2 linked regions of the Homo sapiens genome follow. The protein of the gene in region 1 purifies or fractionates together with the protein of each later gene. This does not show direct contact. Each region holds a gene or a part of one and is shown in the gene's direction. Other genes may lie near its edges.

Region 1 (13,148 bases):
GTCCTAGCTAATGCAATAAGACAAGAAAAGTAAATTAAAACTCACAGATTAGAAAGGTAGAAAAAAATTATCCTTATTTGCAGGTAACATGTTCGTCTATGTAGAAAATTCCAAAGAATGAACAAACAACAATAAAACTTCTGGAACTATTAAGAGATAATAGCAAGATTGCAGGTAACAAGGTGAATATACAAAAATCAATCGCATTATTATACACCAGCAATGGGCAATTGAAATTAAAAATTAAAAACATAATACCATTTACATTAACACCAAAAAGCTGAAATATTTAGGTTTAAATTAACAAATTATGTACAAGATATATATGAGAATAACTATAAAACCCTGATGAAAGAAATCAAAGATCTAAATAAATGAATGTGGGAAGGCTCAATATTGTCAATATCTCAGTTCTTCTCAACTTGATATGTAAATTAAATGCAATCTCAATCAAAATCTCAGCAAGTTACTTTGTGGATATCTACAAACTTATCCTACAGTGATATGGAAAAGAGAACCAGAATGTCCAACACAATGTGTAAGTAGAAGAACAAGTTAGAGGACTGACACTATCCAATATTAATATTTACTATAAAACTATAGTAATGAAGACAGTGCAGTACTGGCAAAAACAAACAAACCAAAACAGACAAATAGACCAATAGAACAGAATAGAAAATGCAGAAATAGACCTGCACAAATATAGTAAATTGATCTTTGACAAAGAAAGAAAGGCAATACAATGGAGAGAAGATAATTTTTTCAACAAATGATGCTTAAACAATTGGACATGTGAAAGCAAAAAAATGAATCTAGATGCTAATCTTACCTCTTCCACAAAAATTAACTCAAAATTAATTATAGGCCTAAATGTAAAACACAAAGCAATTAAACTTTAATAGATAACATAAGAGAAAATCCTTGTGACCTTGTACTTGGTAATGAGTTTTTAGATACAAAACTAAAAGACAATCTATGAAAAACAAATTAATAAATTGGACTTCATTAAGATTAAAAAGCTCTTCTCTGTGAATATCACTATTAAGAAGATGAAAAGGTAAGCCACAGATTTGGAGAAAACATTTGTGAAACACATATTCGATAAAGGACTTGAATACAAAATATAAAGAAACTCTTGAAACTCAACAATAAGAAAATATGTAATTTAAAAAATGGGTAAAATATTTGAATAACTACTATACCAAGGAACATATACAGGCAGCAAATAAGCATATAAGGTGATGCTCAAAATTATATGTTACTAGGAAACTGCAAATTCAAACAACGAGATACCACTAATGCCTACTAGAACAGGTAAAATTCAAACACTGACAACAGCAAATGCTCTTGAGGACATGAAACAAAAGGAATTTTAATTCATCACCAGAGGAAAGGTGCAGCCACTTTGGAAGACAGTTTGGCAGTTTCTTACAAAGCTAAACATAATCTACCCTACAATCCAGAAATTGTGCTTCAGGTATTTACCCAAATGGGTTGAAAACTTATGTCAGCACAAAAACCTGAACATGAATGTTTACAGCAACTTTGTGCTTGCCAAAATTAGAAGCAAATAAAATGTACTTCAATAGCTGAATGGATAAACAAACTATGGGACATTTATACAATGGAATAACATTTAGTGATAAAATGAGCTATCAAGCCATGAAAGGGTATGAGGAATCTTAAATATTTACTGTTAAATGAAAGAAGAAAAGCTATATACCACATAATTTCAACTATATAACATTTGTGGGGTATTGAAAGACTGTAGGGAGGAATAAATGGAGTACAGTGTATTTTTTAAGGCAGTGAAAATATCTTGTATAATACCACAATGATGGGCACATGACACTATATATCTGGCAATACCCACAAAACTGTACAATACCAAGAGTGAACCATAATATAAATTGTGAGCTTTAATTAATAATAATGCCTCAATATTGGTTCCTCAATTTTAACAAAGGTACGTCACCCATGCAAGATGCAAATAGTAGGAGAAACCATGGGCAGGGGAAAGGAAATGCATGGAAACTCTCTGTACTTTCTGTTCTGTTTTTCTTTAAATGTAAAACTGCTTTAAGAAATAAAGCTTATTAATAATGTATATATTTTTCAAAAACTTCAAAAAATCTAATTAAATAGAGATCTATACCATGTTCATTGATTGGAAGACTCAATATTTTTAAGACAGCAATTCTGCCAAAATTGATCTACAGACCTGAGAAAATTCCAAAGAAAACATAATTTTTACTTAAATTGACAAGTTGACATCAATATTTGTATGGAAATGCAAAAGACTACAAGAGCCAAAAGAAATTTGTAAAAGAAGAATAAGATTGTATTACTTGCCATGTCTGATTATAAGATTTACCATAAAGCTAGAGTAATCAAAATAATGTGAAATTGTCATAAGAATCAATGACATGGCAGAGTTCAGGAACAGACCTATATATATATGACCAATTGATTTCTGACAAAGATGTTATGGTCATTCAATGAAGAAAGGATGGTCTTTTCACAAAATAATTCTGGAACAACTGATATCTATACGGAAAAAAATAATCAGTAATACCTTATATCATATCTACTAATTTGAAATAGATCATAGAAATTAAAACTATCAAATTTCTAGAAGAGAACAGAAAAAAAGTAGCTCTGGAGTAAATGAAAGATTTCTTAGATATGACCAAAAAAAACACAAAGCATAAAAAGAAAATTTGATTGAGGAAATAGGGCTTTATCAAAATTAAAGGAGTTCGCACTTCCAAAAGATGACATTTAGAAAATGAAATGCAAACAAAAAATTGGAGGAAAATATTATCAAAATATATTCCTTATATATTCCTTGTATATTGGAAGATACACAACCCAATTAAAAATTAGCAAAATATTAGAACAGACACTTCACAACACAAAATCTGATGCAAGAATAACCAACAAGAACACAGAGACATATTGGCATCATTGGTCATCAAGGAAATTTGGTTCTTCTCAATAATTTTAGTTTTTCTACTGAAATTCTCTATTTTTTTCACTTATATTTCCTTTACTTAATTGAGTATATTTATAGTAGCTGATTTTAACACTTTTCTATTAATTCCAACATCTGGGTCATCTAAAAATTAATTTCTGTTGATTGTCTTTTTTTCTTGAAACTGGGCCACATTTTCCTGGTTCTTTGAATGTTGAATAGCTTTCGGTGGTATCCTGGATGTTAAGTTGTGAAGACTCTGGATTTCATTATATCACTCCAGTGTTGAAGTTTTTGTTTTACTACTCATTTAATTTGGTTAGATTCACATTGCAACATTTGTCACTCGGGTAGCAACTCAAACCTCAGCTCAGTATTTGGTTATTGTTTTTGTTTGTTTTAATCTTTAACTGGGAAGCATTGAATCTGTTCCATATACACATGATTCAGGGATAAAGTGGAGATTTGTGCGTAGATTATACCTAGAAATTTGGACTATTCCAGTGTCTCTTCTTTTCAGTCTTCTATTTTCACTTTCCATCTCAGGACATTGTCCCAAACTCTATACTCTATTTCAGGAAAACTGTAATTTTTCTATGACTGTTTGCCCCTGGCAATACTGTGTGCAATCTTCTCTCAAGTTAAAAGGCATTGAATGTGCCATTCCTTCTTCCAAGCGTTGATTCCCCTTTAAAATATGCCTGTTTTGTTTACATTCCAGTGCTTTCTGGTTTTGGTTGTTTCACCCCTACAGGAGATGTTATCTGGGGGATGGTAAGGTCTAGTAAAAGTCTACTCAGCAGTACTGAAAACTTATACTTCAATAGTTTCTTAAAATGTTAAGCATTGTAATCCCAGCACTTTGGGAGGCCGAGGCGGGTGGATCATGAGGTCAGGAGATAGAGACCATCCTGGCTAACAAGGTGAAACCCCGTCTCTACTAAAAATACAAAAAATTAGCCGGGCGCGGTGGCGGGCGCCTGTAGTCCCAGCTACTCGGGAGGCTGAGGCAGGAGAATGGCGTGAACCCGGGAAGCGGAGCTTGCAGTGAGCCGAGATTGAGCCACTGCAGTCCGCAGTCCGGCCTGGGCGACAGAGCGAGACTCCGTCTCAAAAAAAAAAAAAAAAAAAATGTCAAGCATATATCTACCATTCGACCCAGAAATTTCGCTCTTGGGTATATGACTAAAAGAAACAACAACATATCCACAAAAAATCTTATATAAAAGTTCATAACAACCTTATTACTAACAAGCAGAAACTGAAAATAACCCCAAATGTCCACTAATTAGAAAATGGATATACAAAATATGGTATATCCATACAATAAAATACTACTGAACAATAAAAAGGAATAAACTGCAGATAACTTACAAAATAAAGAATACATCTCAAAAGTAATATGTGTGCAAAAGAAGCCAGATGTAGAATAATATATATTGTCTGAATCCTTTTATAGGAATTCCAAGAATATGCAAAGTGAAGCCACAGAGAAACATAATCAAAAGTGTAGTTACCTCTATGGGTTGGGGCTGAAGGTGTAGATTGAACATTTCTGATCTGTGCTTTTAACTGAATGTAAATTATACCTCAACAAAATTTTTGAACAGAATGATACATTTATGGTCCAGAAGAAGTCAATGGTAATTTCACCACCTGTTCAATGAACTAGGCATAGAATTGGAAATGGGAGACCATACTACAAAGCTCATTTTTAAATTTTAAAGCCATTGCAATGGTCAAAACTTGTGAAACATGATAGAAATTTTGATAGATGTGCCTCTAGTCATCCATAGAGAAAAGGTCAAGAAATTAAAAACAAAACACAAAAAGCCCATTTCACACATAGAAGGTAAAAGACTTATGTGTGTCTGCTCTTCAGTGTCATACCTGCATCTTGCATCCACATCTTTTCTATGATGGGCTGCACATTGTATCAGCATTGTTTGTGTATGTATGAACCTTGCTCATTGTTTCTCTAGGGGCCACTTAATTAATGTTCATCAACTTAATAAGCAAATCCTCAGCTGAGCTATAATTTCTCATAGCTTTATAAAACTAAAGTGACCTTAGGTGGCATGTGGTTGAGTCTCCTCATTTGCTAATAAAAATATTGAGGTTCAAAATGGTAGAGAGATGTACCCAAGGTCACACAAGCAGGGAACAGCAAATATGGGCCCTCAGATCTGACTTGAAGTCTGGTGCTCTTAACACTATGCAGTACAACCTCCTCAAAGGCTCACCTACTCCTTGACTCTCTGGGGAGAAGGTTTCATTACTTCCTATATACCAGTAGACCTTTCTCTAATCAGTAGAAATACATTTATTCTGATGGTTTTCTGACTGAGAAACTATCAGAAGTCCTGTCCCTGAGAAAAGGGTATGGTTGTTTATGTACGTAATCCTCCGGGCCAAATAAATACAAATCAAGAATTTAGCCTGAAGACAAGACAAGTAATTGTGGAAATCAATATTGGCAGGCTCTTTCTATCTGTGGTTTACTTTTTGGAGTCCAGCACTGTATTAGTCAAGGCTTCTTCAGTTGAAAATGACAGGAATCCAACTACAGCAAGCTTAGAAAAGAAACAAAAATCTATTGGCTTGAAAAATGGCATTTCTACCTTGAGACGTAGCAGGATCCATGGAGTCTTTCAAGTGTTCTTTCTCCATCTCTCAGCATTGCTTTTCTGCATGGAAGGAAATACAGTCACTGACAACTCTATACCTATACCATCCGATTCACTATTGTTCATATGACACATCTCATGGAAAAAAGCCTGATTGGAAATATTTGGGACATATGACCACCCTGTATCAATCACTATACATTAGGAGAACAGGTTCTACTATAGAGTTAGCCAGGGTCACATGTCCACCTCTGAGAAAGAGAAGAGAGGCACACATTTTACTAGCATATGGGGAATCATATGAAAAGGATCATTACTCTAAGGAAGGGATGCTTTGCTGAGGGAAAAAAAAAAGTTCACTTCAACACAAAGATCCCTCCTTAAACCAGAAGCCTAAACATATGGAGTCCCCTCCTAAAGTTGTTTGACATCCCAGGGCACTGACTCCTGCAAACTGTATTTCTTAGGCTGCTTTGTCAACTGACTTTCTTCTAGGTTCACCCAATGACAGGGTTTTGAAATACAGGTTAAAGGAGGGCCACAATATTTCTTTTCACTCTCAGCTTTTGGAGGACCCTCCAGCATTATCTGTCTCCCAGTAAGCATCTCCACTGTGGTCTCAGTTCCTTTAATGTAGCTTGTGCTCCTCATTCCTGGTAAAGCCTCCTCTCTAGCACTCCCCAGCCTGAGAGTGGTAGTACTTTCCTGCTAGTAACTATCATCGTGTTGCCTCATCATCCCCTAGTTGGCTTTTTAGTCATTTGAATCCTTTGTAATTTGTTCCCCATATTAAATTCTCTCTATTGAATTACAACATATAGATGCTATTTTTCTGAAAGAACTCTAAGATGTGTGTCGAGAGGAGGCAATCTCCCATATAAGGACCAGGTTCCCCAAAGAGAAAAGCCATTAGAGTTTGGCTGCCTCAGCTAATCTTAAAGTGGAGGAAAAAACAAACAAACAAACAAACAAACAAAAACAAAAAGTGCTGAGGAACACTGTACTTTAAACTATCAGAGAAATAATGTCTTTTTTATTGCTGTTTTTTAGAGACAGGGTCTCACTCTGTCACCCAGGCTGGAGTGCAGTGGTGTAATCATAACTCACTGCACCCTCAAACTTCTGGCTTCAAGCGATACTCCCTCCTGAGCTGCTGGGATTACAGGTGTGAGCCACCGCTCCTGGCCCTGGAAAATTACTCTCATTGAGCACCTGCGCCTGCATGCCTGGTCATGAATGTCAGCTGCTAACACTCTGGTAGCATGCCTACTCCTTCCTCCCATCCACATACTGTCTATGATTTCCTAGTCTCCTAAGACCTCCTTCTCAGTAAGGCCATCTTCCGAGGAGGAGCATCAACTCCTCCAACCTCCCAGCTCCTGGGTGTGCCTTGATACTTCCAAACTCACTGCAAGCGTCACTGGCACATGGTATGAAGCAGAGCGGGGGAGGCAGGACACAGAGCACTGGGTGTGACTGGGGAGGGCAGGCTTTCACAGCTTCCTCTGTGATGGTTTCTAATCCTTGCAGGCTCCCACCATTGGGTCTCTTTCCATCTGAAAATGGAGGAAATTAGACCAGCTGCCTAAAACATCAACTCTAATGTTCTAGGTTCTAAGATTCTGTGGTTAATTTAAGTGACAGAACCACATTATGGCTGCTGTTTCATCAGCACTGTGAAGACTGTACAAGCCACACCTCAGTATGTTGGCTGACCTTAAAAACACCTTGTCAGTACTTGATATAGACACTCGAAGTAATTCTAAGTTGCATCTTACTTTTCTTACTTACAATAAAATGCTGCTCTCTGATTATGAAGATTCATACTCCTTAGTACGAATGGTAAAGAATCATTTGTTTTCTCAGGTGGTCATTTCACTTTCAAAAGCATTTAAGAGGCAATTTTTTTAAGGGTGATATTTCAAGGTCAACACTTTCCGTGCTTTCTAATTCATTGTATTTGTATCATTCTTCAAAGATCCTTCATATTCATTATCTTTTTAAGCATAAGAGAATTGGGCTGTCATTTTTAGTTCTCATATGACACATGAATACACTGAGAGTTAGATTAAGTGAACTGTCTCTAGAGCATACGTCTGGCTATCTAGAATGTAATAACTATAAAGGGAGGGGATCTTTCTTATTAGGGTTGTGGGAAAGGTCTGTCACTGATGTTTCTAATGCTTAGAAGAGTGCCTGACACATAGTAGGTGTCAATAAACATTCGTTGACTCAATAAATGAATGAATCTAATTCGTGACAGAGCTGGGTCTAGAATTCTCTACTCCCTCAGCCATTGCTCCTTTAGTGCTGACAAGAGTTGTTCTATGTTCTCAAGCGCCCCACATTCCTTTGTCTTTTCTGGATGCACCTGTGGTTGGGTTTGTGAGGCGAGGCCAGTGAGCTTTCCTGGTGAGGTGCCACTGGCAACCCCGCCTCATAGCGACACAGGGGAGGGAAGCAGGGGGTCTGCGGAGGTTGCTCCCGAGAGACTAAAGCTGTTGCCCCCGATTTTCCAAGGACGCCAGTGAGGAAGGCCCGCCTGTCCCGCCGCCCGGGCACTGGCCTCACTTTGTCGCGGGAGGGGACCAGGGCTCTGGAGAAGGCCCGGGCCAGCGGCTGGGCGGGGCTCTCCGAGGCTCCCACCTCGCGGTCCCCGCCTGGCGGCCGGCGGCTGCGGCAGAAGGCGAAGCGGTCGTGCTCCCCCTCCCGGACACTGCGGCGGTGGCAGCGCCAGCCCCGCCGCGGCCGCCCACGGGCTCGCGGAGTCTGGCGGGACCTGCGCGGGGCGGGACCTGCGCGGGGCGGGGAGGAGGGGCCGAGGCGGAGCTGCTGCGCTGGGAGCCGGCTGGGGGCGCCGCTCTCAGTCTGGGGCGGGCGCTCGGGCTGCGCGGGCTCTGGGCAGCAGCAGCAGCAGCAGCAGCATCCTCTCTTCCTTTACTTCCCTTCCGCTTCTTTCTCTTCCTTCTCCTTCTTTTTCCCCCCCCTCCCCTTCTTCCCCTAACCCTTCTACCCCTCTCCTTTTTCTCCGGAGGGCGCTAAGTCCGTGAGCGGTGGCAGTCGCGACCGCGGGTGCATCCAGTTTCTGCGCCCAGGTAAGAGACCGTCCCCACCTCTGGCTCTATGTAGGGCGCCTCTCCTTTTGCCTCGGTCTCTGAGTAGAAAGAGATAGGAATGGGGAGGGGTTGTGTCTCGTCCTCTGGGACTCGCAGCAGGCAGTCTGGTAGTTGGTCGAGTGGCCAGCCGTGCACCTGGCGGAAGATTCGGGCCTGTCCTCTCCAGGTGTCACTGCGGAGCAGGGGGCCGGACGCTACTGGTACCTGAGCCCTGGCTTCGTAGAAGAGCGAGTGAGCTTGTTAGGTACCACTTTGAAACAACTGAAAACTTACGCCAGGTTAGAATACGTGTATCGAAAGCCAGTATTACCTGCGCTGTGGAAAGAAGGGGAGTGGATTCTACAAAGATAGTGGAAAATAGGAAATCGAGGTAGGGGATTTTTTTGTTCATCCAGCTGCAGAGAACTGCACACTGGGAAGTGAGTGAGTGAGGGAAGCCTTGTCCATTTCAAATCATGTTTCTCTGTAATTCCTTCAGAAACAGCTGGGAGAGGAGGACTGATATTTATAATTGTAGGAAAATGAAAAATAAATGCCTGGTGGTGTTGGAGGGCGGGGCACGAAGAAATGAGTCTGGTTAGGCTTCCACACAGTCGTTTTTCTTTTTAAACGTTGGGGGTGGACCTCTGAATCTACAGTGCATCTATTCTTTTCTTCCTTTTCTTTTTAAAAGGCTTTTTTGGTGGGGAGAGGAGGACTGCAGTGCTGGCTGCCTGCCTTCCCCCACCTCGTCTTTTGTTTAAGGATGGAAATTTCAAGAAAGAGTGTGTGGGGGGCTAGGAGTGGGGAGCTGTATATTTGGGTGTGTATAGGGGGAGGGGTATGGATGGAGTCAGAAAAAAAATCCTTGAAAACTGGAAATTAATGTTATTCTGCCTGGCATCCGGACTTCAGGATTTTTGTCAGAAAATAAAAAGCTTTCATTAGCAACAAGCCCGTTTGTGACAATTGCTGTGTGCCATCTGTCGTAAGCTCTTAGCACAATGCTTCCAGGACATAGACGCTTTAAAATTGAGTCCGGTGTAAAGGGTTTTTGTTTAAATGCCTAAACACACAAGTATGCACACAAATGTATAATACACTATATACATGTTACAAAAGGAAATAGGTACTTAAGAGACTGATTTTTTAAAATTGTATTTGAGGGTTTGGAAATTATGTTGTGAATAAAATCTGTAGTGCAAAACAAAAAAATATTGTTGGGTGGTATATAATTTTGGGTGTGAGGCAAAGGGATTGATGACTGTTGGTAAGGAACTAATTTAAATGTTAAAGGTATAATTTATTTTAAAATGATCAGTCTAGAAAAGGAAATGATTGCAAACTGAAATTGAGGTTTGCAGCCACAGTGAGGCGATGGAGAACAAAGCCTTCTATGTGAGCCACATTATGCAAAATGTCCCATGCATGAGCTGCAGGTACCAGCCCAGTTCAAAAGCATAGTTCTTTCACTATGTCATTTCACTGTGGACAATTATGATTTTTTTTGGCAGTCAAATAGATTGAATAAATAGAAGCCCTTTAGAATGCTTTTAATTTTATGCCCAGGGAAAAGATTACAGCCTTCCATCAGAATATAACACAAAGCAGCCCTTTAACCGGGCAATAGGTGTATTTTGGTAGAAATCCTTGTGAATTTGCAAATCATGGATGTTCCAAAAGCCCCAGCCCCATGCACACAAAGAACCCTTCCTTCAAGAAAAAAGGCATTTTTCTCATTCAGTAAGGATTATTATATTTGTGTGTGTATGTTTATGTTGATTTCCTGGTAATTTCATCTGATTATCATAGGTGTACATCTGCATTCATGATTTGTATATTATCAGAGCCATTGTGGCTTTAGGATCAGTGGTACATGCTGTTTATCTGTGGTTTATTTAATTTTAATTTTTCATATTTTACAGTTTGCTACAATATTATTTAATGTCCAAAGTTTTCTTTTTTAAAACCATAAGTAGAAAATTGCTTAACACACATCTGAAGATCTAAGTAATTTAAAAATAGAGCTACCTTTTATAAAATAATATTTTAGTTATATTAATTTTTATTTTATTTATCTCCTCTCTTATTTTTTTCCCTTTTCTAATCAAATAACCTGTTTCTTTATGGCTGCTTTAGTCTTCTATACTGCCATAGGAGGGCCAGTGTTTTCAAGAATTTTGAATTTAGGATTGTTCATTCTCTGCAGCACCTCTCAGGATGACTTGTTTACAGCACCTTCTCAGGGAGGAGACAGGGAAAGAATGTGCTGAAAGAGCATGACCCAGTGAAACTGGCACAGCCATTACCTCATCCTAGTAGGTACTTCAGATTCATTGAGAGAGCAGGCATCCTCTCAGTGGAAACCAAACACCAGGAGCACACCCATCTCAGGGCAAAAGCCTTTCTCTTCCCATAGCAGCCTTTACTAATGTCATTCCACTGAGGTTAAAGGGATATTTTCTCTTTTATGTATTCCTTTTCAGGGATCTTGAACTTGGTTAGAAATATGTAGCCAGAAATGAAACTTGGCACAGAATCCTCTAAGCCTGAAGGAATAATTTCATTCCTTTACCCCTTTTGGTTTAAACCAGTTCGCAAATTTTCTAAACATCAGAAGGGAAAAGGAAGAAAAATGTTGGTGTATTTTTGTGTATTTTCTTATCACACACACATATTTTGTATTGAATTTTACTAGCAGTTAGACAACAGACTGGACATGCTATTAACAAATGTAGTTGCACTGTTGGCATTTTAAAAAATCATTATTACATTTGCTTATAGGACAATAGGTGCATCCTTCAGTGATTCATTGATGTCCTTTTGAGACTGACCATATGAAACTGACATGGGGATTTTAGTATTCAAGTTGGTAACTCTGATTATTGAATCCTTTCAATACTTAATTTCCTCTTAACAGATTAAGATAAAGAATCTGAAATAATAGTTACAGTAGAAGATAGCACCACCCCCAGATCAATACTATCCTCCTTAATGCTAAAAGTAGTCACTTTAGGTAAGTCATTAGTAAATGCATGAACCTGAAGATAACAGTTTTGAAACAATCTCAAATTTTTTTGTCTCTGTTATAGATTAGTTAAAGATGCTAATAAACTCTTTGAGTCATATCTGATTCTCTCAGATATATCAAGTGTTTTTGCTACTTTAATTATCTCTTTACTATTGCCATTACCTTTATCTACTCAATCTAGACCTTTTCATGTAAGGACTGTATTTTGATCATTTCACCATATTTTCCCTCCCTTCACATCATTCTTTTTAATTCGACATTTGGATGTTAGACTTACTGTTCTCTAGCTATTTTGGTTTCAGTAATGTTACTCTCTTGATACAAATTTGGCCTTTATTTTTCATTAAGGAGAGCACTTATTACCATTTATGTATTTATTTATTCATTATGAGAAACAACTTTTGATATTCTCAGTTTTCAATTGCAGAAAATGATTCTAGGCACCAAAAGCAGTTAAAAGTCTGCAAATTAATATGTAGTACACAAAAGGCCAAAGTCAAGGGAGACAGTCTGTATGAAGGTTTGGGTGGGTGGGTAGGTGGGTGGGCGTAGAGGAAGATGTGGAATGAAAGCAAATTCTCAGCTATTAAAAGCTGTCCATGTAGGGTAGAGATGAGCCTTTTTGTCTAAGAGGGTGAAGAAGGAATAAATGTTTTGTTTTTCTGTTTCAACATATTTTGTCCCCATCCCTCCCCTGTCATGTCTTTGAACTAAGGCCATGGTGCTTCCTTATAAAAATTATACAGTATGTTTATTGGAAGGAGTTTTACAGTGAATTAGGTGAATTCAGAATTTTAAAATGATGTGAACACAATTAGATGAATTTTTATGAAAAACACTTTGAATCTAATCTTTGATCTTTCCTGTTCAAGACATAAGCTTTCCTTTGAATGGTAGTACTTTAACTGTAATACATTTTACTTAAACATTTCAGTAAAATTCTATGGAAAGTTAGACAAAATAAAGAGCTCAGGATCCTCTTTCAGTCTACTGTTAAGTTTATATTGTGGAAGTTGGGGAAAGTTTTAGACAGTTTGTTTTCCGTTAAAACACACACTAGAGGGGGCAAATTTCTTTTTTTTTTTTTTTGCTTTTTGTTATGTTAATGAGCAAATAATTTACTTTTAAGATCACATACCTTGACTTTTTTCTTTCCTTTTTTGTCTTCTTTCCATTCTCCTCTTTCCCTTTTCTTTTCTTCTTTACTTAGATTGCTCCTTTCTTTCAGTTTGTATTGGCAAAATAAACATTGGTCTTTAGAAAATGAAATTATAGCCTGATATTCTTATTGAAATTTATTTTTCATTATATTTATATTTCTCATTTAACATGAAGTTTTATGCTAACCTCTCCTCCTTCTCAAGGCTCCATCCCTATCTTGGTCCTTTCTTTGAACTTGGCTTTTATATCCCCTAGGCTTC
Region 2 (12,267 bases), on another chromosome or scaffold:
CACACCTGACCTCATGTGATGGTTTACAGTCAAAATGCAGGCACACAACAGCTTATTCAGCATCCCCGAAGGGGTTAGTGTACGAGGTACAGTAACTTTAATCAGAATATAGCATTGTAGGTGGAGACTGCAAGCCTGCCATTGTTTGTGGTTGCTCTTGTTTGGCAGCTGGTGCAGGTATTCTGGGGATGCTACTATGCTGCTTAGTTGCCCCAAACACATTAGTTTTTACTGTGTTAATGGTATGTCTTATTTTTTACTGTTAAGTACTTATGTGTGAATACAAGTAAAAAATGATGGCTTATTGGTAGCATATAAATTCAGAGTCAGGAATGATGGTAATGCTGAACAACCACAGATTGTCCACATGGGTGGTTGAGATAATGACACCTTTGCTTTCTGGTGGTTCAATGTACACAAATTTGGTTTCATGTACAAAATTACTCAAAATATTAAATAAAATTATATTGAGGCTGTGTGTATAAGGTATATATGAAACATAAACTGATTTTGTATTTAGACTTGGGTCTCATTCCCAAGATACCTCATTCTATATATGCAAATATTCTAAAATCTGAAAATATCTAAAATCTATAACACTTCTGGTCCCAAGAATTTTGGATGAGGGAAACTAACCCTGTACTTGAAAAATGATTATCCATGGGACAAATTCTAGTAGTTTCCCTTGAAACAGTCATTCTATCCGTGAATGACATTGAAAACCAATTCTTTTCTTATTTATTTATTTATTTATTTATTTATTTATTTATTTATTTATTTTTGAGGCGGAGTCTTGCTCTTGTTGCCCAGGCTGGAGTGCAGTGGCGCAATCTCAGCTCACTGCACCCACTGTCCTCCTGGGTTCAGGTGATTCTTCTTCCTCAACCTCCCGAGTAGCTGGGATTACAGGTGACTGCCACCACGCCTGGCTAATTTTTTTGTATTTTTAGTAGAGACGGGGTTTCACCATGTTGGCCAGGCTGGTCTCAAACTCCTGACCTTGTGATCTGCCCACCTTGGCCTCCTAAAGTTCTGGGATTACAGGCGTGAACCACTGTGCCTGGCCATGAAAGCCAATTATTTTCTTCTGTCTATCATGTTTCTGCTGTTATTGCTTCTTTATTATTAATAATCCTTTTCTTTCTTTTTTGGAGGGGCAGGGAGAGTGTCTCACTTTCTTGCCTAGGCTCGAGTGCAGTGGTGCAGTCACAGCTCACTGCAGCCTTGAACTCCTGGGCCCAAGCGATCCTCTTGCCTCAGCCTTCCAAGTAGCTAGGAGTACAGGCATGTGCCACCATACTTGACTAATTTTTTGGTTTTTTGTAGAGACAGAGTCTTGCTATGTTGCCCAGGCTGGTCTTGAACTCCTGGATTCAAATCCTCCCACCTTGGCCTCCCAAAACATTGGAATTACAGGCATGAGGTACCAGGCCTGGCCCATAATAATTTTCTAATGTTAAAAGCCACTTTTTTTTTTTTTTTTTTTTTTTTTTTAGCAGCACGTCCCCACTCTTTGTCTGTGTTAGGGTTTAGTCAACAGAATAAAGCCAAAGAATTTTTTCTATCTGCCCTCACAGGTGCAAGCCTTGAAAGCATGTTCTCTGATAAAATACAGTATGCGGAAAGTCAGTCATCCACACAAAGAATGCAGTTTACGTGAATATAGGGTCTGGGTAATAGGAAGTGCAGTGACATGCAAACTGAACCTTATTTGCCTAGAAAAAGAACCCCAGTTAAAAGATAAGCACCAAAAAACTATAAAAAGACCAGAGTTAGATATCTAGTCTGAATTTCTACTTTTTAACTTTAGAATGGGGGTTGATCTAAAGTAAAGGGCCAGAGAGTAAATATTTTTGGCTTTGCAGGCCAATATGTTCTCTGTTGTAACTACTCAACTCTGCAGTTGTAGCATAAAACCAGCCATAGATAACACATAAACAAACAAGAGTGTTTATATTGCAGTGAAACTTTATTTACAAAAGCAGATAGCCAGTTTGTGGGCTATAGTTTGCCAACGTCTGCTATAGATTATAAAGGACCCTAGTAAGTTTTGTAGAGTAGTGGCTAACCAAATTGCTATAGCTAGATTCTTTTTAAAAAGTTATTTTCTTCTGATCACAAAAGTAATAATATGTTCATGTTACAAACAGAAACTCTTAAATTAGATAGCGAATATGCCTAGAATCCCTCACTATTCTTATGCTTTTAGATAACTACAGTCAGTGATTTGATAAATGTTTCTTCAGATGATTTTCTTTCTTTTTTTAAGGTTAATTTTTTATAGAGATGGGATCTTGCTATGTTGCCCAGGCTGGTCTTGAACTCCTAGGCTCAAGTGATCCTCTTACCTTGGACTTCCAAATTGCTGGAATTACAGATGTAAGTAAGCCACCACACCCAGCCTCTTCAGATGATTTTTTTTTTTTTTTTTTTTTTTGAGTTGGAGTTTTGCTCTTGTCACCCAGGCTGGAGTGCAGTGGCACAATCTCGGCTCACTGCAACCTCCGTCTCCCAGGTTCAAGTGATTCTCCTGCCTCAGCCTCCCGAGTAGCTGAGATTATGGGATCCCGCCATCACACCCGGCTAATATTTTGTATTTTTAATAGAGACAGGGTTTCACCATGTTGGCCAGGCTGGTCTCAAACTCCTAACCTCAGGTGATCCACCCGCCTCAGCCTCCCAAAGTGCTGTGATTACAGGTGTGAGACCCGGCCTCTCCAGATGGTTTTTTATGCATATACTATTTGGTTGTAGTCTTTAGTTATAGTTTTATCATTCCTTATTCCAAATTTTTATTGTTTAGTCCCATTTTTCCCAGCAGGCACATGGTCTGGAACAGATGGCACAGATTGATTCCCCTTTATTGTCATCGGAGGGGATAACAGGCTGGAAATAAGATTTTTATTTCACAGGGCTCTTTTCTGAAATAATGTTTTATTTTAATGATATTTTATTTGAATTAACCTCCAATCTACATATGTCCAACAGAGGCACATTTGATATTTATGTGAAATGTGATGGTGTTGGAAGATGTGTTGGTAACTATGATAATCGTGGGAGTTTCGGCGAACTGGCCTTAATGTACAATACACCCAGAGCAGCTACAATCACTGCTACCTCTCCTGGTGCTCTGTGGGGTTTGGTGAGTAAAATACTTATTTGACCTGAATGTTATGATTTGTAGCAATTGCTATGACGGTGTTACAAATTGCCGCATGTAGTATTTTAATTTAAAGATCATCAGTCATCAGGTAATTTATTAAGCAGCCACTGAATGCTGAACTGTAGGGCACTAAGACTTCACTAAGTCAGATCCTGATGTCATTGCCCCCACTCCTCCAGTCCAGTCAGGAGCTTGGGACCTGGTGGCCCAGGAAAGACACTCAGATTCAGAATGCTCCTGTCTTACCCACTCTTAGAAAATAACCAGCCATACAAACACAGCCTTAAGTACTTTTTCTCAGATAGCTTTCTGAGGTAAGTATTATAATCTGATAAAGTTGTGGCTCCCAGAGTGTGGTCCCCTGAACACTGGCAGCTGTATCACTTGGGAACTTTTTAGAAATGCCCATTCTGGGGCCCCACCCACTGATTCTGACCTACTGCATCAGAAATTCGGAGTTTGAGAAACCAGTATAAAAGGATGCTCTTGGTGCTATAAATTGATTGGTAACTACTCTGCATTTAAAAGCAGTTGTGTAGGGAAAAAATGCTTGGTGGCTGTGCTCATGTGCCCCACATCAGAATTACCTGGAGTATTTTTTTAAAATCCTCTTACCTAGCCACGAGGTCAGGAGATCGAGACCACGGTGAAACCCCGTCTCTACTAAAAATACAAAAAATTAGCCGGGCACGGTCGTGGGTGCCTGTAGTCCCAGCTACTCAGGAGGCTGAGGCAGGAGAATGGCATGAACCCGGGAGGCGGAGCTTGCAGTGAAGCTGAGATTGCACCACTGCACTCCAGCCTGGGCGACAGAGCGAGACTCTGTCTCAAAAAAAATCCTCTTACCTAGACCTCACCATGGGCAAATTGATCAGAATCTTCAGCACTGGGACCTGAGCATTAGTACTTTTAAATACATTTCTTAATGTGGTATTCCCGCAAGACTTAAAAGCTGGTTTAAAGATACATTCGGGCAATATTTTCACATATGATAGGATGCAAATTATTAGGCACTACTAAAGCTCCTTCTGGAGGATTGTATTTAAGGTAGTGATTCTCAAACTTTAATATGCTTACAAATCACCTGGGAATCCAGTTAAAATGCAGATTCTGATTCAGTGGTTCTGGGGTGAGGCCCGTGATTTTTGCATTTCTCATCAGCTCCCAGGAGATGGCAGTACTGCCTGATGTCAGGCCAAACCTTAAACAGCATCGATTTAGGGAAATGTTTACAGTATATGTATTTTCTTTTAAAATTGTTGAAAATAGCCCACCCACTAGTTTTGACATGCATTTATTGGGTTATTTCTCTCAAATCCTTTTGTGGAAAGAGAAGAGGTTGAAGTAAATATGAAGTCTGTTAAAAGTCTCATTTCCAAGGACTACTGTATATAGCATTGTGGAAGTCACACATTATTTAGTCACAGTTCAGCATTTGACTCTGAAGTCAATTCAGCTGATAAAAAATATCTCTTGATCAAAGAGACAAGACATTTTACATTTCTTTTAATTGGAACCAGTTATTATATACTTATTTAAAAATGTGATGAGTCACTTTTTTAAGGTTTAGAGGAAAAGCTGAATTGTCTCAGGAAAAGGAAAGAACTGTCAGTGATTTGAATACCCAAAGCCAGCAAAGAAAAAACTTCAAACCAGGACAGTCCTTCACCCACAGAAGTCTTTGTCTGCCTGTAATTAAAGTGGTGGGATAAATCTAGCATCTGCCATGACCTGTTTTATTCAGGAAGGTTTACTTTTCAAATGTAGTCATTCCAATGGGGTTGCCGTTCAGATTCAGATTGTCAGATTGTCACACAGTGAGGAAACTGCCTCCTTGCACATCTTCAGAATAAGATCAACTGTTTTATAGGTTGGCCTCTTTGAATACTGATAGTTTTTAGCCCTTGTAGAAACTTTAATGGGGTATAAAAGACCCAGAATTTCCTAGTGCACGTACTACTTAAGTTCCTAAGATAGGATTAAGCATTTTCAGAGCTTTTTAGTAGTCTATACATGTTATTAAATTTTATAAAAATGGGCAGTTTGTGATAATCCTCCTGACATATAATAGCTTTCTAAAAAAGTTAGAATAATTAACATAATTACTTAGTATTTCAAGCCTACTTTTTAAGGGTGACTTGACTAATTATAATAACTCCTTCTCAGGGAGAGTCGAGTAGAAAATAAATTTTTCTTTTAAGGTCAACAGACTGGAGGTCTGCCTTATAAATACAGGTGTGTAAAGATAAGCAAAAAAAGCCCAAGAGAAAAGTCCATTGCAGAATAGTCTCACTCTGTAAATAATATTTGGTCACTATTAGCCTTAGGGCTAACATGATCTACGTGACTATACTGATGATTTGGAAAGGTGATTTTTGAAATGGCTTCAGGATGAAAGTATTTGAAATTCTGGACTTTATATGTCACAGTGGGTGTGAAGAGGTAGGTTACTAATGGAAAATTCTTTCTGAGAGATATAACTGATTATGATTAGTTTCTAAATCATTAAGCTATTTTGAGTCTTCTCTGTTTTGCAATAACCGCTGTCCATACAATGGTGTTATACCTGATTTCCAAACCTGATTACATATCAGAATCACTTTGGGAGCATTTATGAATTATTGAGCCCTACATGCAGAGATCTTGAGTCATTAAGGTCTGGTGTCTCAGAAATCTTTTTTAATACTATAGCTTATTCTGATGCAGAGCCAGGCTTGGAAATAATTTCAATATTTGTGCTAATTATCTTGTAAAATTTTCTTTTAAAAAAAGTATTAGGAGTAAAACAAGTCCAAATTACAGCCAATACCAAATTGGGAAACAAGATGTTTAATTTCCTAGTGTCTTAGTCCTTTTGGGGTGCTATGACAGACTGTTATAGAATGGGTGGCTTAAGCAGCATACATTTATTTCTCATGGTCTGGACGCTGAGAAGTCCAAGATCAAGGCACCAGAAGATTCGGTGTCTGGTGAGGGCTTGTTTTCCTGTTTAACAGACAGCGTCTTCTACTTGTGTTCTCACATGGTGGAAGGGGCAAGGGAGCTCATTGGGATCTCTTTTATAAGGACATTAATCCCATTCATGAGGGCTCCAGCCTCATGACCTAACCATCTTCCAAAGGCTCCACCACCTAATACTATCCTGGGTGATTAGGATTTCAACAGAGGGATTTTAGAGTGATAGAAACATTCAGTTGCAGTCCATCACACCTAGAGACTTTCATCTATACTGGCATTTTTCTCCATTGCACTAGTTCATTTAAATTCAGCCTTATTATGTTGGCATAAGAAAGAATGAATAAGACCTAGTATTTGGTAGCACAATAGGGTGACCATAGTCAATAATAAAATTGTATATTTTAAAATAAATGTAATTGGATTTTTTGTAACTCAAAGGATAGATGCTTGAGGGGGCAGATACCCCATTCTCTATGATGTGCATATTTCATGTTGCATGCCTGTATCAGAACATCTCATGTACCCCATAAATATACACCTACTATGTACCCACAAAAATTAAAAATAAAAGTAAAAAAAAATTAAAATATTGGCATAGTAATTTATTAAATAATATATCCCAATTTTTACTTTATTAAAATGGTATAATTGTTTATTAATGAATGCCAATCTAACATAATTATTGAGGCTTTTATTAAAGAATTAAAATATTTTATGAGAAATTATTTAAAATAAAATTTTTAGGAAAATAATGTTTTGAGCTGTATCCTTAAAATTTTTACTAGTTCTTCAACCGAGTTCTGTATCTTTGAGGGCATGATAGTATAAACAGGAACATTTTAGACTGTGAACATGGTAAACACTGGAATTAGATCTTACTCAAAAACATAGTTGTAGTTTCTCTGTGCCTTCACATTAAATAAAAATTTTTTTTATGAGTACATATTATGTGTATATATTTACAGGGTACATAAGCTATTTCGATAACAGCATACAATATATAATGATCACATCAGGGTAAATGGAGTAGCCATCACTTTAAGCATTTATAATTTCTTTGGGCATCCCTCCACATTTTTGACAAGAAAATTTTGACATAATGTGGATATGAAAAAGAACGTAGAGTACATAACAGAGTAAAAGAACAGAGTGCTAGTATACATATTTAAAAATGCTGTGACAGCGCCTCCTTGTGGGCAGAACCCAACATATTGGTCAGATTTCTGTTATGTATAAAAAGTCAACAGATGCTTTCTTTAAAAAAAAAAAAAAAAAAAAAAAAGAAAACAGTATTTTATGTGGTTCTGTATTATATTTTGTGCTTGACGAAATAAAAATATGAAATGAGTTGCATTAAAAGTATAATGATGTTAATCTTTTATTTCAGAATCTTCAATCATTGTTTCTTGTAGGGAATAAAATAAAACTATTTGTATAGCTTTACCCCCATAAAATTTACCCTTTAACTGTTCTGCCTGTAGGACAGGGTAACCTTCAGGAGAATAATTGTGAAAAACAATGCCAAAAAGAGAAAAATGTATGAAAGCTTTATTGAGTCACTGCCATTCCTTAAATCTTTGGAGGTAAGTATATGTTTATGCTTTTATTTTATTTTGCTTTAAAAGTTTCTGTTTTGCTAGGAATATTTAGTTCTATAGAAAAATTTCTTTGAATAAAAAAAAATCTATCCATGTTTTTATTTGAAAAGATTAAATGGTAGTGCTAATTTTTATAACTCATTGTTTCTTCTGCTATCTATAATTTCATTTGTTTTGTTATTTGAAAGTAATACATTCCTACCCAGCATCTATAGCAAATTTATATGTGGTCTTTATCTGATAGCAGACTTAATATAATCACATAGATGTAGACAAGAGCCACTAGTTGTAACTTTACAGTGAGGCGTTCTCTAGATATAGAATGTCCTCTCTGGCCTCTTCCTCTCAGTCATCTTTGCTGTTTATTCCTCTTTTCTTCTCCTCTTAAAACTGGCATTCCAGGCCTCTGTCCTTGGCCTCTTCTCTTTTCAGGATACACTTATTCACTTGGTGAACATGTCGAATCCCATGGCCTTAAATACAGATGTCCCTTGACTTACTATGGGGTTACCTTACGAATAAACCCATTGTGAGTTGAAAATATCATAAATAGAAAATGTATTTAATACACCTAAACTATGGAACATTCGAGCTCAGCCTAGCCTACCTGAAACATGCTTAGGACACTCACATCAGCCTACAGCTGGGAACAGTCACCTGGCAGCACAGTGCACTGGAGAGCATGGGTTGTTCACCTCATTGTGGTGAGGCTGGCTGGGCGTTGTGGCTCTCTGCCTGGCGTTGTACTGCATATCGCTAGCCTGGGAGAAGATCGAAACTCAAAATTAGAAGTATAGTTTCTATCGCTTTCAAACAACTGTAAGGTTGAAAAATCATTAATCAAGCCACTGTAAGTCAGGGACCACCTGTACTGTCCATATATTGATGCTTCTTAAAATTGATATCACTGGGCAAGGCCCCTCCCTTGAAGGTCAGACTTACTTATCCAACTGCAAATGTAAGATTTCCTCTCAGATGTCTAATAGACATCTCAAACCTAGTATGTCCCAAATCTACTCCTTTTCTCTTTCCCCGCAGATGGCAACATATCCTTCCAGTGTCTCAGGCCAAAAACCTTCGAGTTAGCACTGACTCATATGAACCACCATCACCTCTTGCCTGGCTAATTGCAGAGTCATCTTTTAAAATCCCTGGTTGTGGCACTGCTCTATTTAAGCTCCTCCTCACATGGCCTCTAAGGCTCTGCACAGACTGTCCCATTCCCCCACCCATTTTCCCCAACCTCATTTCCTACTGCTCCACACTCATCATCTCTCTGTTGACACATCAGCTTCTTGCCACTCCTCAAACACACCTGTCCCACACCCACTTCGGGGTCTTTGTACTTGCCGTCTGTCTGGAATGTCTTCCTACACAGCTGCAGGGCTCCTTCATTTCTCAGCCCAGAGGTCTTCTCAATGAGACCAGCTCTTAGGTTTTTATCTTTGAAGGTAGAGACTTATGAGAGAGAGTAGGTTGTTGTTACCCTAAAAATTCAGCTTCATTTTCCATACTTCATCATTAAATTAAATGCTTTTCTATTTCACTGTCATATTTGAAGTATTTTGAGAGTAATTAAAGACAGGCATATATATGTACCCACAACATCTTATAAAATGGCAAGTGTCAAAACAGCAGTGCTTCTCCTTTTGAATGTCTCTGTTGGATTATCAGCTTACATCTGGTAAAAATTTTGTCCACATCACACAGTGCGTGGTAGACAGCTGATCTTTTCCAGCAGCATATTTCTTTAAATAAGAGTAGGTCAGGGATTGGAAATCTGGTGCCTTCAGAGCTAGGCAGGTAACACAGAGAAGAAAACCAAGCCAGGAAGGGACTTTGGCAGATTGGAGAACATGTATTTCATTAAAGAAACAGCTGCTATCCCACCATAGTTTTATTGTTGCCATGTGGAAATATGGGCTATGTGATGCTGATTTTTCAAGAGAAGCTGGAGATTGAATTTTTATGAAAAATTATTTTAAAATGCTGGCTGGTAATTAATACAACAAACACATATACAACCTACACACTGCTCGATTTATTTGGCCTATAGGCTACCAGTTTTTTACTCCCGAACTAGATAAGCTTACCCAGTTAATTTGTTTCTATTTAATATTGTTTTTCTTTCTTTGTAGTTTTCTGAACGCCTGAAAGTAGTAGATGTGATAGGCACCAAAGTATACAACGATGGAGAACAAATCATTGCTCAGGTATGATATTTTGAAATGTAATTCAGTTTAGGGTTATATTCCAAAAGGTTCCTGTAGTGGTAGATCTTGATAAACTTTTCATATTTCTAAAATTAGTATGCAGTGATGGGTTAAATAAATATTACTTCTACCAAATGACCTGTTAAAAATGGTTTCATTTATAGTCATTACTCTATTGAATATTTTTGTTTATGTAATTAACTCCTAATGAAGGTGTATTAAACCATCAAATGGTTTTCTGCATCATTGTAGTCATTTATAAGAGGAAAAAACAGGTGAATGTTCCATGACATTAATGAGGACCCAGAAAGTACACTGGAAAATTCTATAGAGTTTTGCATGATCAGTTCATGATGAAAATTCCTGAGGCTGCTCCTTGATAAAATTCACCAAGAAAGGAACACACTGCAACATATACTGTTTTGGCTTCCAAGACTACATGTGGGTCAACATGTTATTTAATCCCTAATACTTTTCTAAGATCCCAGCTGGAACCAATAATATTAGATACCTGGGTTGGAGTAGGGCTACCAAAAGTAGAATTTGTGAAGACTGTTGAAGTTCACAGGTAAAGCATGCAGATGATAGTACCTTGTTTCCTAGTTATATTTTTGAAGCACTAAGCAAATGATTAAAATGGATTTTTAATAGATTCTGTAATTTTTGTATCACAGCCTTATACTGTTTTGTGCTCTTTATCTGAAATGCAGTCTTTTCCTTTATATGGGAAACAAGATTCAAGGTCTTTGAGACTGAGAAAAAGAATTGTTTTAGAAGACAAATACATAAGTAAATCTTTCGATCAACACCCCTCTCCCATTGCTGAGTGTGTGTGTGTGTATGTGTGTGTTAGAGCAGTCAGGGATTGGGAAGAAATGGAGTCAAGCAAGGTTAAAGTTCTACTGTATAAACTAGTAAATAACAAAGCAAAGAGCATGTTTTAAATGATTTTTTAAGGTTTTATTTTGAAATAATTATAGATTCACAGGAAGTTGCAAAAATAGTTTTGAGAGGTCCCGTGTACTCTTCACCCAGTTTCTCCTAATGCGTTTTGCATCACTGTTAATAACAATATCAAAACTAGGAAAATGACATTGGCATAATTCACAGACCATATTCAGTTTTCACCAGTTTTACATACACTTAGAGCGTGCTTTAAAAATAGTTAAAAATTACTCAGCAGTTAATAGACCTATTATGATTCAGAACACTCGAAAACTTAATATGAAGCTTTTATGAAAACCTGATACAAGAATAAGGGAAAGGAGATATGCTATACTTAGGGTTTATTAAGGATATTCTTACATATTTGTTGTCTTTTAAGCATTTATAAATATACATATACACCCTATATTCTAAAAATCTAAATTCAACATTTATTTTTGTGATAGAATCAGATGCTAAACTTCTTGAATTTGTATTAAGGAGTTTTGAAATATTTTAAGTTTCTCCAGAATCACTTTGAGAGGCTTAGAGAAGTCAGTGTCTGTATTATTATCTTCCATATTGTATTGTTTAATTCAGACTGCATCATTGGAGATCAAGGCAGAGTTCATTAAGAAACAAAAGCAAGAAAGAACAGGTATATGGGTAGAGCAACACTTTTCTTTTAGAAGTCCTTCCAAAGCCTTGAAATGGAATGTCAGTAGGCTAGCATGTCAGAGTTTGGTCCTCAGTTGACTGTAGTGAAAATGTCAAGGCCCACATCTGCTGCTTCCGGCTCCATCTGGATGCTTTCTGCTCTTTGCAAGTTGATGGCTTATCTTGGGTCACCACACCAATGCTTGCGATGTTAGGATGACGCAGGGTGCATGTCTCGGCACTTCCTCAGGAGCACAGGATCCGCAGACATGTTTCTGCCAACTAAGGGGACGCTGCTGGCATACACAGCAGTGTTGCCATTTCCAACTATGTATGCTGTTATCTAGGCTGAAATTTGGGTGAAATTCTTACCCCAGTGTTGCCACATTTTCTTGGTTTTTTAGCAGAAATACAGTGGTAGAGAATATATTATTTCAAGGCCAGGCACAGTGGCTCACGCCTGTAATCCCAGCACTTTGGGAGGCTGAGGCAGGTAGATCACTTCAAGGTCAGGAGTTCGAGACCAGCCTGGCCAACATGGTGAAACCCCATCTCTAATAAAAATACAAAAAAATAAATAAATACGGGTTCTAGATCCCTGAGGAATTGCTACACTGTCCTCCAAAATGGTTGAACCAATCTACATTCCCACCAACAGTGCAAAAGCATTCCTATTTCTCCACAACCTCACCAGCATCTATCGTTGCTTGACTTTTTAATAATTGCCATTCTGACTGGCGTGAGATGGTTTCTC

The links.
Region 2: the proteins of MAP2 (region 1) and PRKAR2B purify together in Homo sapiens (affinity purification with mass spectrometry; 4 studies listed by BioGRID and IntAct, with this or other methods). This does not show direct contact.

What each region holds. Positions count from the first base shown.
Region 1 is NC_000002.12:209,415,581-209,428,728, forward strand, and holds the start of MAP2 (microtubule-associated protein 2), read left to right. Parts: upstream 1-8,466; 5' UTR 8,467-8,696; intron 8,697-13,148. UniProt on the Homo sapiens protein: The exact function of MAP2 is unknown but MAPs may stabilize the microtubules against depolymerization. They also seem to have a stiffening effect on microtubules.
Region 2 is NC_000007.14:107,143,320-107,155,586, forward strand, and holds part of PRKAR2B (cAMP-dependent protein kinase type II-beta regulatory subunit), read left to right. Parts: intron 1-2,988; coding exon 2,989-3,142; intron 3,143-7,602; coding exon 7,603-7,704; intron 7,705-9,857; coding exon 9,858-9,932; intron 9,933-12,267. UniProt on the Homo sapiens protein: Regulatory subunit of the cAMP-dependent protein kinases involved in cAMP signaling in cells. Type II regulatory chains mediate membrane association by binding to anchoring proteins, including the MAP2 kinase.